Homo sapiens: one gene and its partner. The protein of the gene in region 1 purifies or fractionates together with the protein of each later gene. This does not show direct contact. Each region holds a gene or a part of one and is shown on either strand. Other genes may lie near its edges. The genes, in order: FAM78A and ASNS.

Region 1 (3,820 bases):
TTTTTTTTTTTTTTGAGATGGAGTCTTGCTCTTATCGCCCAGGCTGGAGTGCAGTGGTGTGATTTCGGCTCACTGCAACCTCCGCCTCCTGGGTTCAAGCGATTCTCCTGCCTCAGCCTCCTGAGTAGCTGTGATTACAGGTGCCCACCACCATGCCTGGCTAATCTTTGTACTTTTAGTAGAACAGGGTTTCACCGTATTGCCCAGGCTGGTCTGGAACTCCTGACCTCAGGTGATCCACCTGCCTCGGCCTAACAAAGTGCTGGGATTGCAGGTGTGAGCCACTGCGCCCAGCCCAGAACTCTTTTCATCTGCAAAACTGAAACTTCGTCCCCAAGAAATATCAACTTTCCGTTCCTCTTTCTCCCAGCCCCTGGCAACCTCCATTCTACTTTCTGTCTCTATGAATTTGACAACACTAGGGACTTCACATAAGTAGAATCACACAGTTTGTGTTTTTTTGTGGCTGGCTTATTTCACTCAACATAACGTCCTCAAGGTTGATCTGTGTTGTAGCCTGTGTTGGAACATCCTTCCTTCTTAAGGCTGAAGAACATTCCATTGTACGTATGTAGCACATTTTGTTTATCCATTTATCTGTCGTTGGACACTTGGATCGCTTCTGCCTTTTGGCTATTGTGATTAATTCTAGGAACAGGAATGCATTTTTTTTTAGAGGTAGGGTCTCACTGTGTTGGCCAGCCTCGGCCTCCCAAAGTGCTGGGATTAGAGGTGTGAGCCACTGCGTCCAGTTGGGAGTGCTTTTTTTTTTTTTTTGCAGACAGAGTCTCACTCTGTCACCCATGCTGGAGTGCAGTGGCACAATCTCAGCTCACCGCAAACCCAGCCTCCCAGGTTCAAGCAATTCTTCTGCCTCAGCCTCCTGATTACAGGATTAGAGGCATCTGCTACCGTACCCCGCTAATTTTTTTTTTTTTTTTTTGGAGACAGAGTCTCACTCTGTCGCCCAGGCTGGAGTGCATGGCGTGATCTCGGCTCACTGCAACCTCTGTCTCCTGCCTCAGCCTCCTGAGTAGCTGGGACTACAGGCGCATGTCACCATGCCTGACTAATTTTTTCTATTTTTTTTAGTAGAGACAGGGTTTCACCATATTGGCCAGGGTGTTCTCAAACTCCTGACCTCATGATCCGCCCCCCTTGGCCTCCCAAAGTGAATTTTTGTATTTTTAGTAGAGACGAGGTTTCACCATGTTGGCCAGGCTGGTCTTGAACTCCTAACCTCAAGTGATCAGCCTGCCTCAGCCTCCCAAAGTGCTGGGATTACAGGTGTGAGCCACCACGCCCGGCCAGGAGTGCATTTTTAACAGTAGCTTGTTCCTGGGAGTACCCGCTGTGCACGTAGGTGAGCAGAAGGCGCAGTGGGCGCAGGGTGTCCTGAGCTTCCCTGTTACAGGTGCCTTGGTGGAAATGCGCCGGGGTCCCAGGCCCCACCGCTTGGCCAAATGTCCTTAGGAAAATGTAGCCTCACTCTCCACCCCCAGCCCACCACTTCACTTTCTGTATCTGCCGGGTGGGGTTGCATGGAGAAGATTGTCTGTGAGCCTGTAATGTTAAAGTAAGGGGCCCCTACAGTCTGGGGTGGGCTCCCAGATGCTACTATATCCATGGCCACATGGGAGTGTGGGATCTGTATGTCCCTAGAGCAACTTGGGCCAGGCCGGCCACCTTCTTCTGTCTGAGGGTTATGATTGTAACAGCAGCAGTGATGACAGTGACTCCGAGCTACTGTCTGACCCCCTGCCCCCAGAACGTCAAAGGGGACCGGGTGGTCTGCTGGGTCCGTTCCATCCTCAGGGCCCAGGACAGCCCCTGGCCTGCCAGGGGGACACAGAAAGCCCTCCTTGAGTGACCGAGTGAGTGAACTGGCCTTCCTTGTCCTCAGGTCCAGCTGGGAGCTCCCCGACCTCCAGGAGGGCAAGATCCAAGCCATCAGCGACTCGGATGGGGTGAACTACCCCTGGTACGGCAACACCACAGAGACCTGCACCATCGTGGGCCCCACCAAGAGGGACTCCAAGTTCATCATCAGCATGAATGACAACTTTTACCCCAGCGTCACATGGGCCGTGCCCGTCAGCGAGAGCAACGTGGCCAAGCTCACCAATATCTACCGGGACCAGAGCTTCACCACCTGGCTGGTGGCCACCAACACCTCCACCAACGACATGATCATCCTGCAGACGCTGCACTGGCGCATGCAGCTCAGCATCGAGGTGAACCCCAACCGGCCCCTGGGCCAGCGCGCCCGGCTGCGGGAGCCCATCGCCCAGGACCAGCCCAAAATCCTGAGCAAGAATGAGCCCATCCCGCCCAGCGCCCTGGTCAAGCCCAATGCCAACGATGCCCAGGTCCTCATGTGGCGGCCCAAGTACGGGCAGCCGCTGGTGGTGATCCCGCCCAAGCACCGGTGACAGCCAGGACCACCCGCTAGGTTAGACTCACAAATAATAATACCGCTGAAAACAAAACTCAGACTCACTCTTCAGTCATTCAGCAAGATACAACCATTCTACCCTCTCCAGCGGGCGGATCTCACTGTGCTGATGCCCCCGGGAAGGCCTCCCCGGCTCTCGGCACCTGCTTCCTTTCAGGGAGAGGGGAGATCTAAGCAGGACAGACAGACCCCACGTGCGCCCTCAGGGTGACCTCTGGTCTCCTTGCCTCTCCTTTTTCTCAGTTTCAGTCGCTCACTTGTAACAGATTCCCTGAAACACTGCTTTTTCCGTTTTTTAAAAAAACTCCTCTTTTGGGGGCTCAGGGGCAGGAGGAGGGGGAGCTGATTAGGAGGGAAGCTCCAGCCCCCGATCAAAGAGACAGATCCACACTGCTGCCGATTTGTGGCGCTGGCCGGCCTTCCCCCCAGGTCCCTCCGCCCTCTGTCATGCGGCCTTATGTAGACTTGCTTTGCCAAACTTTTGCCTTAAGCTGAATTGAAAGGAAGAAAACCAATCGGAGAAAGAAAGCAGGATCTCTTTTCTACCGGACTTTTCCTCTTCTGCCAGAGGTGGAGGGAGGGTTGGGGTCGCCCGCGAGAGTCTCTTGAGCCCTTCTTCCCGGTTGTCTTGGGAGAAGGGTGAGGATGGGCATTTAGACCCGAAACCAGCTGCTCACTCTTTCTTTTTGGCAGAAATAAAACCACAGGTAGATTCTGCCTGAACAGCCCCTTCTCTCCCTCCACCCCCAGGTCGTATCCCTGCACCTGCGGAGAGGGGCTGTGAGCTCTGGCGGGGGGTGGCTCCACCAGTCGCCTGGCCTCTTCTCCCCTCTCTTCCCAGCAGCCTTAACTTCCCTTGGGCGGCTCTAGGAGGAGAGAGGCAGGCTCCTGTGAGCCCAGGGAATTTTCACCCTCTCAGTCCTCAGGACCCACCCCCAGTTGAGTCCCTGGCCCTTCCTCCAGGTGTGTGGCTTTTTCCTTCTCCATCCACACTGGTCCCAAATGCCTGGGGGCCGGCCACCTGGACCGCCGACACACAGCCTCAATGTTAGTCTCAAAGGTAAGGAAGGCATTCACGTCCCTTCTTGCAGGGCATTTTAAGACTTGAATCGGGTGGGCCCCGGCCCCTGTGGCTGGCTGGCCCCTGGTGTACTGTAAAAGGGCCAAGACAGGGCTCGTTCTCAGGGGCGCCCCTCCCAGGCCCTCAGGGCAGCGGGACGGTGCAGTCAGGCTCTGGGTGCCACAGTGATGGAGGTGGAAGGCACCCAAGCTCTAGGGAAGTCTTGGGAGGCAGTCGGCCGAGCCCCTGCTTCCTGTCCTCAAATAAGTGAATCCAGGCCAAGGGCTGGGAGGGCTGGGTGGGCT
Region 2 (3,820 bases), on another chromosome or scaffold:
TACATATGTAACAAACCTGCACGTTATGCACATGTACCCTAGAACTTAAAGTATAATAATAATAATAATAAATGAGCTATCAAGCCATGAAAAAACACAGAAGAACTATAAATGTATACTGCTAGGTGAAAGAAGCCAGTCTGAAAAAGCTACATACTATATGATTACAACTATTATACGACATTCTGGGAAAGGCAAAGTGAGAGAGAAAGCAAAAAGATCAGTAATGACTGGGGGGTTAGGAGGAAGAGGACGGGAGGAAAGAATAAGTGGAGCACAGGAGATTTTTAGGGCAATGAAACTGTTCTACATAATACTGTAATGGTGGGTACATGGCATTAAACATTTGTCAAATCCAAAAATCTATAAAACACAAAGAGTGAACCCTTATGTAAACTATGAACTTCAGTTAATATATAAGTATCAGTTCATCAAATCTAATAAATGTAGCACAGTAATGCAAGATGTTAAGAGTGGGGAAAACTGGGCAGGGGCACTGTAGGGGGAGCATATGTGAACTCTCTGCACTTTCCTCTCAATTTTTTCTAAAACTGCTCAAAAAAAAAAATAAAGTCTATTATGTTTTTAAAATAAAATGATCCCTAACAGGAAAAAAAAATGGCAAAGGATCTGAACAAATATTTCTCCAAAGAAGATATACAAATGGCCAATAAGCATAAGATAAGATGCTGGACATCACTGTCAACAGGAAAATACAAATCAAAATCACAATGAGATACCACTTCACATACACTAGAATGGCTAGAATTAAAGTCACACACTGTTTGTGAAGATGTGGAGAAACAGAAATTTTAATACACTGCTGGAGTGAATAAAAAATGATGCAGCCATTTCAAAAATTAGTCTGGCAGTTCTTCAACTGAACATAGTTATCATGTGTCCCAGCAATTCTACTCCTAGATATACACCCAAGGGAAATGTCCACACAAAAACTTGTACACCAATGTTTATAGCAGCATTATTCATAATAGCCAAAAGGGGTAAATAATGTCCTAAATGTCCATCAACTGACAAGCGAATAAACAAAATGCAGTGTATCCATGTAATGGAATATCATTTGGCCATAAGAAGTAAGTACTGATACATGCTACGGCATAGACAAATCTTGAAAGCACTATACCAAGTGAAAGAATCCAGTCACAAAAGCCGGTATGATATATAATCCCGTTCATATGAAACATACAGAATAGGGAATCCAGAGGCAGAAAGACTGGTGATTGCCGGGGCTACAACTGCAGGGGTGCAGCTGATGGATATGGAGAGATGGAATTCAAAGCTAAAGGGCACAGGAGGCAGGGTGTTGTGGTGCATGCCTATACTCCTAGCTACTAGGGAGGCTGAGGTGGGAGAATCGCTTGAGCCCACGAGTTCAAGGCTGCACTGAGCTATCAAACCACCGCACTCCAGCCTGGGCTGGGCGACTGAGCAAGACCCCATCTCTTCAAACAAACAAACAAACAAAAACCTAGTTGATCCTGCCAGCAAAAACTAAGGTAAAGGGCATAGGATTTGATTTGGTTTTTTTTGAGGTGGAAAAACAATCCTAAAACTGATTGGAGTGTTGTTTACCAACATCTGTGAATATACTAAAAACCACTGAACTGTATACTTCAAGTGGGTGAATTACATGGTATGTGAATTATCAATAAAGCTGTTTTAGAAATCCTAACACTTGCTGTGCTATAACTGCGCAAAGTACCACAATGCAATAATTGCAGAGTCAACCCTACGATTATAGTATGACACAGGAAAACTTAAAACTGCACTTAAGATCAAGCTAGATGTAGAGCATATTAGCACAGCAAAAAATAAACGACTGCACTAAAGAATCATCCTTCAAGGATTACAGAATTTAAGTGCTGAAAAGGAGAGTACAACTCCTCTGTTTTTTTAAAAAAAGGTAAAGACTCATAACTTAGTCACTTGTAAAATTCTGGATTGCTCTCTAAGAGATTTTCAAATATAATTTAAAAGAAAACGTACAACCAAGACAATAATGAAAATCTATAGAAAAATTTATTATTACCTTTAGCTTCTGAACATACAGCCAAAAATCCATCTTCTGTCATTGCTTTAAACAAAGGTCTGACTCCATATGTATCTCTACCCAGGAACACTTTCTTATTGGCAGTATCCAGTAAAACAAATGCAAACACACCATCCAACATACAAATTGTTTGCTCAATTCCTCCTTTGTCATAAAGATGAAGGATTATCTCACCATCCACTTTGGTCTGGTATTCAAATTCAAAATGCTGTTGCATCTTAGGAAGCGAAAGCAAAACCAAAATGTTAGACTCCTTGTACATTCACTAATAATTTTTTATTGCAAAGATGCTTCAGTATTTCTGAGCTCTATAATCCTTTCATGCACTTTGGTGATTTAGGAGAATCACAGCATTATTAAACTATGGTTCGCTTCAACTCATATTCTGCAAATTCTGTTCAACATAAAGCCGAACCCATGAAAATTTTAGTTGCAGTCTGATAAACAGAACATAATGGGAATGTGCCAGAACAGTAACCTGTGGAGGGATGGAAATGTATATTATATACATACCATATATGTAATACATACATATATTTATATATATACAGATTGAGTATCCCTTATCTGAAATGTTTGGAACCAGAAGTGTTTTGTGTTTTGGACTTTGGAATATTTGCATATATGTGAGATATCTTGGGCATGAGACCCAAGTCTAAACATGAACTTCATTTATGTTTCATATATCTTATACACAAAACCTAAAGGTAATTTTATATAATATTTCAAATAATTTTGTGCATGAAACAAAGTTTGCATACATGGAACCATCAGAAAGCAAAGGGGTCACTATCTCAGCTACCATGTGGAAAATCTGTGGCTGTTTGACATCATTGACCATCATTCCTGACTCTGAATTTATTATGCTGCTGATGAGCAATCATTTTCATATGCTTATAAAATATGACATACCATTAATACAGTAAGAAAGTAATAAGTAGCATAGTAGAATCACCAGAATACCTGCATCAGCTGTTAAACAGCTGTACAAACAATGGCAGGCTTTCAGACTCCACCTACAATGCTGCGTTTTGATTAAAAGGTTACTATACACTGTATTTTTTTTTCCTTTTTCAGGTGAGAAGAAACATCAGAAGCAGCTGAGCAACTAGGAAGCGGGTCCTCTGAGATTGAAGAGGCATTCGGCCAGATGACTTTTAAATGTTTCTCCAGAGTCATCTGCTTCATTAACAATGGCTTTTGTCTTGGAAGGCTCTCTTTGATTTTATAAACTGACATGACCTCTTGTTCTGTTATGAATGCAGGTAGCTCTAGTCCTTCAATATCTCTATCACACATTTTCACCATGTCATCTATACCTTTATACTACAGTCCAGTTTCTCCTACAGCTTGACTTTCTGTGTTATAAGTGTTTCTACTTTTCCTTATCACTGCTGCTCATAGAAATATCTACAGGTCTTTTTGACATTTTCAGTATCTTAACACCACAGAGCAGAAAATAAGCAAAAATACACAATGGATAATGCACATAAGTCCCATCTGTGGGGATCCTGCCAATGGCGTATCCAGCTTGAACATGTGCCATTCTATTACCCTTTGTGGGCGTGCTTGCATGGGGAAATCCGGGCATGTGTAGAAAAGTTATACTGCAGCTGAAGCGGGCTGAGAGGGTCTTTTTTCCCTAGGGAACGCCAAATAAACTGCGTGTTTTACACCTGCATTTTGACTGTGACATCAAAATGCACATGTAATGTCATGTCAGTGCTCAAAAAGTTTCAGATTTTGGAGCAT

What was found.
Region 2: the proteins of FAM78A (region 1) and ASNS purify together in Homo sapiens (affinity purification with mass spectrometry, with the first as the bait; one large-scale study listed by BioGRID). This does not show direct contact.

The regions. Positions count from the first base shown.
Region 1 is NC_000009.12:131,259,434-131,263,253, reverse strand, and holds part of FAM78A (protein FAM78A), read left to right. Parts: intron 1-499; exon of another isoform or gene 500-516; coding exon of another isoform or gene 517-563; intron 564-1,903; coding exon 1,904-2,432; 3' UTR 2,433-3,820.
Region 2 is NC_000007.14:97,862,212-97,866,031, forward strand, and holds part of ASNS (asparagine synthetase [glutamine-hydrolyzing]), read right to left. Parts: intron 2,286-3,820; coding exon 2,048-2,285; intron 1-2,047.